Homo sapiens: one gene and its partner. The protein of the gene in region 1 purifies or fractionates together with the protein of each later gene. This does not show direct contact. Each region holds a gene or a part of one and is shown on either strand. Other genes may lie near its edges.

What was found.
Region 2: the proteins of RRM2B (region 1) and OPALIN purify together in Homo sapiens (co-immunoprecipitation; one large-scale study listed by IntAct). This does not show direct contact.

The regions. Positions count from the first base shown.
Region 1 is NC_000008.11:102,203,767-102,208,052, reverse strand, and holds the end of RRM2B (ribonucleoside-diphosphate reductase subunit M2 B), read left to right. Parts: 3' UTR 1-3,551; downstream 3,552-4,286.
Region 2 is NC_000010.11:96,342,432-96,345,898, reverse strand, and holds the end of OPALIN (opalin), read left to right. Parts: 3' UTR 1-2,678; downstream 2,679-3,467. UniProt on the Homo sapiens protein: Central nervous system-specific myelin protein that increase myelin genes expression during oligodendrocyte differentiation. Promotes oligodendrocyte terminal differentiation.

The DNA of each region.
Region 1 (4,286 bases):
GTATATCCTTTAAAGGACTGGGGGTTTGCTCAAAAGGAAATCCAAAACCTATTCTAAACAATTTGCATTTATATAATTTTCCTGTTTAACAACAAGAGTGTGACCTAAATGCTTTTGTCTTGTCACTGAAATAAAAGATGGCATTATGTGGTTAAGAGCATGGGGCGAGGGGTCAGACATGAGTCTAAGGTTCTGCCCTTACTCCAGTGTGTGACCCTTGGCAAGTCAGTTAATCTTGGTAAACCTCGGTGTACTTATCTTTAAAATGGGAGTAATAGTAGGTCCTAAATTCATAGAGTGGATATTAGGATTAGGATGCAAAAATAAATGCTTAACCAACACTACTACTGTTAGCACCACTACTAATTATCATTCATTGATAATATTAATTGCAATGATGTTGTAATAAAATACTCTCATTTCCTTAAAATAATTGTGATTCTAGGTCCTAGGATCTAGAATTAGATCTTTGTATTTTTAATGCTTAGGGGAAGAATATAAGTATCTCCTTAAAAAGAACATAATTCTCATTCACGCAAGAATAAGTTCTTTGAATTCCTTAGTATGTAGTGAAGAAAATTTAGTTGTTAGTTGCTTTGGGAAGCCTACTTATGGAGTGGAAACCAGGAGGTTATCATGGTAGTTGACCTTATAAGAAAAATGATTCTTCTTCAGAAATTAAAAACATAACTATTGCCAGATTTAGCTCTGGAATGTTTAGAATCAGGCTAGAATAGCATTTTCCAAAGAATATTCTAAGAGCTATTAGCTCCTCTAGATATTTTTTTGGGGGAAAAAGGGGATTCTGTGGTCAGATGAGTTTGGGAAATGCTGAACACTTCATTCTTCTTTAGCAAGTACAGTCAGTACATCAAAGACTGAGCAGTTCAGTGGTACATAAATTTATCTCGCCCTGCATATTCCCAACATACTTAACACAGATGTTTTTTACCTGTTAACATCTCACCCAGCTAGTGTTCCTCAGAACAAAGATTGGAAAAAGCTGGCCGAGAACCATTTATACATAGAGGAAGGGCTTATGGACTGAGAAAGGGAGAACATGGTAGGGATTATTGAATCATTTCAAATTTATACCAGCCTGAATAGTGTACCAGCAATTGACTTAGGCTGTGTTTCTTTATGGTTTTAAAACTCTTGAGCTGTTATAAGAGATAGTTCTTTTAATGTGACTATGCAACATGATAGCCAATGGTGAGGGAAAAGGAGGTTTCTCTAGAAGAGTCTGATGAAAGGCCGGGAACCAAGGTTTTTGAGAAGTCTGCCCCTATTTATTTTTAGTAAGTATCAAGAGGTAGCCTGAGCCTAGTTAGAGTTAGACCTGTCTTTGGATGAAGAAGTCTTAATACTGAAATACTGAATTTTTAATACATTATTATTTGGTATTCTGTATACCCCTTCAAGCAGTTGTTTCCCATTCCCAACAAACTGTACTTTATACAATTCTGGATGCTAAAACTTAGAGATTTTCTCTTTGCATAAATTTTGGCTCCATTCTTTCCATAACAATCTAATCAAAACTGGGAGTTCTCAAGTGAATGCAAAAGGAGCAGGCCATAACTTTATTTGTTAGATACACTGTCAGAAACTTGAGATCTTTTGGCCTATGATAATACCATTAATTTTTGCATTGCTTCAGTTTGCCAAGTGTTTTTACATCATCTCATTTGATCTCAAAACAGCTTGACAGAGCAACTGTTATTGAAATATTACAGATGGAAAGAATGAGGCTCAGGGAAGTTAAATGACTTGGCCAAGATCTGCTCATCGTCACTGTCTGTACAGTATTTTTTTTTAGAGGTTGTAATGTCTCAGATTTAGTCCTTTACCATCTATGTTGATTTGCTTTTGTCTATTTCCTCATTAATTGAATATACTTTAAATATATATATTAAAGTATCAAAATATAGAGAGACATTTGAACTGTATTCAGGTAATATGTTTAAAGATATTTATATATTGCCATACAAAAACTTAACATTTAAAACTGATAATATCTGTAATGACATCAGAATGAAAGAAAAAAAATTGTACAGTGTATATTCCTTTGTTTTGAATCCAAATCTTTTTCATAGGTAATGACAGATGCCTTAATGTGAAGCTTATTTATAATAGCAATAAACCTAACTGGATTTGGATGAAGAAGTCTTAATACTGACATACTGGATTTTTAATGCACTGGTTTGTTATTTGGTATTCTATCTCTTTTTCCAGGCCTCCAGGTTGCACATTTATTTATTATGTTCAATACTTTGGTTCTTAGTTCTTAAAGAATCAAGAAGTTGTGTAATCTTTTAAAAATATTATCTTGCAGATAAAGAAAAAAATTAAGAGTGTGTTTACAACTGTTTTCTCTTTTTTACAGTACATGTATTTAAATCATTGCTATAATAAAGTTAAGTTCATTAGGAATATAAAAACTTGCAGTTCTATGATAGATTGCATTTATTAAAAATGTTTCATTGTATCACATAGAAATATGGCCAGGAAGGACTTGAGAAGACAGTTTGATCCATTGCTTTTAGACAGGACTGGGTTTTGCTGTCCAATTATATACAATAATAGTTTTTCTTACAACTAAGCTGGCCCCAGCCTTGTCTTGATATTAATACATGAAATTTTTATAATTGTCTCATTGTCTCATTTAGAAACATCCATATTTTTCTGCTTTTTCTATTGCCATTTTTTATTTGTGCATGAATTGATTATTGAGAAAATGTAGCAGTTTGCATATTTAAAAATTAATCATTTTGCATTTTACATTTAAATATGCTAACATCACTGTCATAGAATTCCCAAATTTCATTTGTAGATACTGAACTAAGGGCTAATGTCAGGAGCTGATTTTTAATGATAAAGCTGCAGATGGGCTAAATAAAAGCCAAATTAATCCTACAATCAGGTATTATGTTTTTAAACCAAGTTGAGTGAATTGGTAGTGGACTTGGGAAATCTTCCCCAGCAGAATCTGGATGAATGGCACAGAATTGAAATCTCTTTGTTTCCCACCATTTCCCTTTAAGTGCTCTGCTCCTTTGTAAAAAGTTAAAGATTTGAAAGAGAATCTCATATTCCCGAGGCATTAGGAAGAAAGGATTTAATCCCTTCAATTTGGGGCTTAATCTTGTTTAAAAAAATGTAAGTGAAGATGGAAGGCTGGAGAGAATGATTGCTTTTTGTACAGTTAAATAAGGTCACAATATTCTTACATACTTTGTTTTACAACTGTGTTTTCATTTTTTCAAATGTCTGGCCATTTAGCAAAGTTATTTACTATTTACTGTGTACATAGAAAGCTTTATTATGTGTGGTGTATCTAAATTTTTTTTGCTGAAATACATTATGGTCAATCAAGCCAAGCCTGCATGTACAGAATTTGTTTTTTTTTCAAATAAATTAGTTGTTTTCTTATTTTTTTGGCTTAGTATGTTGAAATAAACTATGGTATCTTCATCATTTTGTACATTTCCTTTTTGAGGAAGGTTTCTTTATAAGTGCAAGGGCTACCCTAATAAAGGAATGTATATACTTACTATTTGTGTCTGCAGATAAATACATACTTGTTTGTTCAACTATCGCCCCAACCATAGTTTTTACATTAAATGAGACTCCCAGTTCTCTCACCTATCTTTCTCCCAATCCATAAGCCTCTCTTCATGTCTTTGTTTCCAGCTGAGATTCCACAAACATCATATTACTAGCAGTAGCACTCATACCAGTACCCTCAACTCTGTCCCTTATCTGCTTTTTACCATACATAGAAAAATTTAGAAAAATCCCCAAGTCTGTTTTGAATGAAACAACTTAGTTTTTCCAGTATTTGCACCCCAGCAGCCAAATGCTGCTAGAGAAGAAGTCATACAACAAGGCAATTGGATTCTCTACGTATTCATGATTACCCTATCTCAGCACTATCTGGTAATCCTACTACAATTTCCTGGTAAACTTGACCTCCACTGTGCACAATTGCTTTTTCACACCTCCTCTCTCTACCTCTACCCCCGTTTCCCAAAGAGGTGACCATATATTTTACTCTGTGGACTTTGCACACATAGAGATATTCTCAGAGTTAGTAGAAAAATTTGACGATATAAGAGCCCCAAATCTAGAACCTAAGAAGTTAACAGTAGATATGAATTCCTATGTGTGATTTCTGCTGTGGAGTCATTACAATCGGAGTGATTGAAAATATCTGGGACTAACAGCCATTTAATTCTGGGGACTGCTGCTCTCATTCCCAACCATGCGGTTCTCCCAGGGCTGCCAAT
Region 2 (3,467 bases), on another chromosome or scaffold:
GTTGAAAACCCAGGGTTTTGTACTTGGAGAGGAAAGATGCCAAGCTGCTTCTTAATCAATCCAAATTTCATTTACAGCTCTGGAACACTTTGGGGCTGATTTGTCTCTTTAGGGGACATCCCCAACATGGTTAATTCCAACTCTCAGATCTTGTGCTTTAGTTAGTACATGTGACTCACCAGATGGGGTCCTTAGATCCTATTCCTGCTCCCAGTGGGAATTTGCTTTTCTTTGTCATTTTGGGAAAGGGGCTTGGTTTCTGAGTGTCTTGCCTTCTCATCTTTTTTTTTCATATCCTTTTTCTCAAAAAAGCCATCAGATCTGACTTTCATGGAAGTGTTGCTGAGGTCAGCCTGGTGCAAGTTGGGATACAAATGAAACTTATGCAGGATGTGTGAGAGGAAGCAGTTAATTGTTTCTGAATATCTCAGGGTAGGAACCATGTGGAGCCACACATTCCCTGACCACAGGGAAGCACCTGGCTCAATCATGTCACACAGCAGTGGAAAGAATACGGACTCTTAAGTCACACCTACCACTGAGCAGCTGTACGACTTTGGAGAAGTTGTTTAACATTTTCAAGCCTCAGTTTTTGCTTTTTTAAAGGAGGGGAAATATTTGCCTCATGTCATAATTGAAAAGATTAAATAAGAAATAAAGGGAAGTGTCTGCTACTTAGTTGCCAGTCAAAATGTTAGTTCTCTCTCTCTACCACCTTCTTCCTACCTCTTCCCATATTGCTTGCCTGATAAAACAGCTAATCACCAGCATTTGTTCCCCATAGTCACAGGGCCACACAAGGGAACATTTAGGACAAACTTTCTCCATGGCCTATGATCCAAATTGTTATCTAAAGATGATTCTAGGTGTTGCTGGTAGTATGTGAATCTTCCAATCTAGGTGTGATCGTGTCCTCATATGAATCAGGAAAAGGCAGTTTCTTACAAGTTCCGAATTCCAAATACAGAGACTGGTGGTGTTACATTTAACCTTAAAGATGTTAATGTTGATGGAAATTCATGTTTCATATTAAAACAACACTTTGTCTTTACAATGAAACATTTTGCTTAATTTTTAAAGTAAGACATTATGATACCTCTGATGGCAGTTCCTCAAATAACTTTAACTTTTGTGCTTTAGGGATAGTTGTTAAAGTTACAACTTCTTTTATTTTATTTTTTAAAGGCTTCAGATTAAACAAGAGCCCTTAAGCCCACGCATAGCATTGCCGCTTCAGCTTGCTGAGGACTGTCTCCAAGGAGGCCAAATGGAAAAGGAGAGGCTACTTCAAGTGGTGTTGGCCCATTGAGCCTATTGGGCAAACTATAACCAGGTTGCCTTATTTTGGGTGGATTACTCCAGGAGAGGCCACCCTCCAGCTTTCTCTTATCCCAGTAACTCCTCTTCCCATTTTCCAATCCATCCCCAGCCTTTTTTTTTTTTCTTCTGTACTCTTCTTTTGCCTTCAATATGAGTTTCATTTCCTCTGTGTCTTTGGGCAGACTTCCTTCTAACATGTGTCAGCTACCCTACCACACACCTGGCCTAGGAGACACATCATTCATTGCTCCTACTTGTGTCTGTAATCAGAGAGTATTTAAGGAGGGCAGTTCTGCGACGGACTGTGTGTGTGTTGAAAGTAAAGATGGGGGGCCGCGGGGAAGGCAAGAGTTTTTCCAAAAGATTATTAGAAATGAGGGCTGTATCTACTCTGTGGAGTAGAACCAAGTCTACTTGGAGAAAAGAACCAAGTCCTTGGATATCTAGGGGAAAGCTGTTTGGCAGAAAGAAAAATCAAGAGGACCCAAGGGGATGGAGACAGGACCACAGGAATGGGCCAAGGAGCAACGTGCCTGCCATTCAGCCAGCTTGGGACAGGCTTTCACTTTCACTCCCATGAGGAGGCTTCCAGGCAGCCTGGTTCCCCCATGTATAGCCATTGCCCTCTAGCAGGCCAGGCCTCCCAGTGGGAAGGCCTGGGTCCAGGGCATCTTAAGTTCATCCAGCAGCTCCATGAGCCACACAGATATCCTAGAAAATATTCCTTTCTCACACAGGGCTTCTGATTACTCAGAAACATGCCCCTCTTCCCTGAATAACCAAGAACATGTTCTATGAACCCAATCTCTGCCACATGTCAATACCTGCTCTTCAAAGCCCCTTTTGAAACTCAGTTTTGTGCCAAGTCCTCTGGATCTAATTACCTTAAACAAGCAGATTTAGCCATTTTTAAACAGACATTCCCAGTCATCCTGGTGCTTGTACTTCTCCTACATGTCATGAAGGACCTTGGATTTACTGAGAACTCAGCCGTGGCCTTGGCTTTGATACTTATAGGTGTCAGCCCTTGGGCCGATTGTTGATCATCCAGAGCCTCAGTTCTGTACTTGTAAAGTGGAGACAGCAGTTCTCATCCTCCATCCTTTTAGCCCATGGGGTGGTTGTAAGGCTGGATTGAAATATGCATGTGACTAAGCCATGTAGCTATAAAGTGAGGGATGACTTGTGTTTTGGATCACTTATTTTAATTCTACTTATAATCCACGGCTTAGAATATTTAAACATTGTTTCTATTAAACTAGAAAGGTTCAGCATTTCTGTCATTTACTTCTGCTATGATACACAAGAACTTATGTTGGAATGAAGTGAAAAGTAAAATGGCCATTCTTATGAACCTACAAAATGTTTGTGGCTTTTCTTTGCCTATATTAGAGAACATTGGCTCTGTCCCTGGAACCAAGATTATCCCAGGGATATTCCCGATATTGGCACTTTCTCTGCCAGGCTAGAAGACATTCAGTCTTTCATGGAGGGCAGCTCTGTGTGGTAAGCAAAATGATGAGACCCAAAGTCAGAAGCTCTGCTTCCCTAACCCAGGGCTGCTGGTAAGTTAAGTGACCTTAGTCAGGTTGCACGATGTGTGTGGGTCTCATTTCCTCCTGTATCATCTGGTGTTTGAATTGGTTTATCTATAAAGTTACATCCATCCAGTCCAAACATTCTACTTTGATTTTCCCCAAACCCTGCAAAGCACTCCTTCTGCCTGCCTGTTCCTCACTCCCATCAGCACAGCCTTCTATACCCTCTATGATTCTTCTCAGTTCCTGACTTTGCTGGTGGAGACAGATACTCACTTCTTCTTTATTTTGCCAAGAAATAACAATTATTAGTTTTGCTTAAGGCGTTTTTCCCTGCAACATTGCGATGTTAATTGAAGACCAAAAAGTGATAACTAATTTTTGAAAGATTGTGAAGTCATATAACCTTTGCCCTCCCACCATCTTGATGAGAATTATTGCTTAATGCGTGAATTGATTTAACAAATGTGCACTGGCTTCCTTCCAATGTCAGACAATCTGCCAGGTCCTAAGACAATGTTGGGGGCATAATGAAAATGCTAAACTGGGTGTTTGTGGAAACGTTTCTCTACCCAATTGAATGTGAATCTCCATCCAAGGAAATAATAT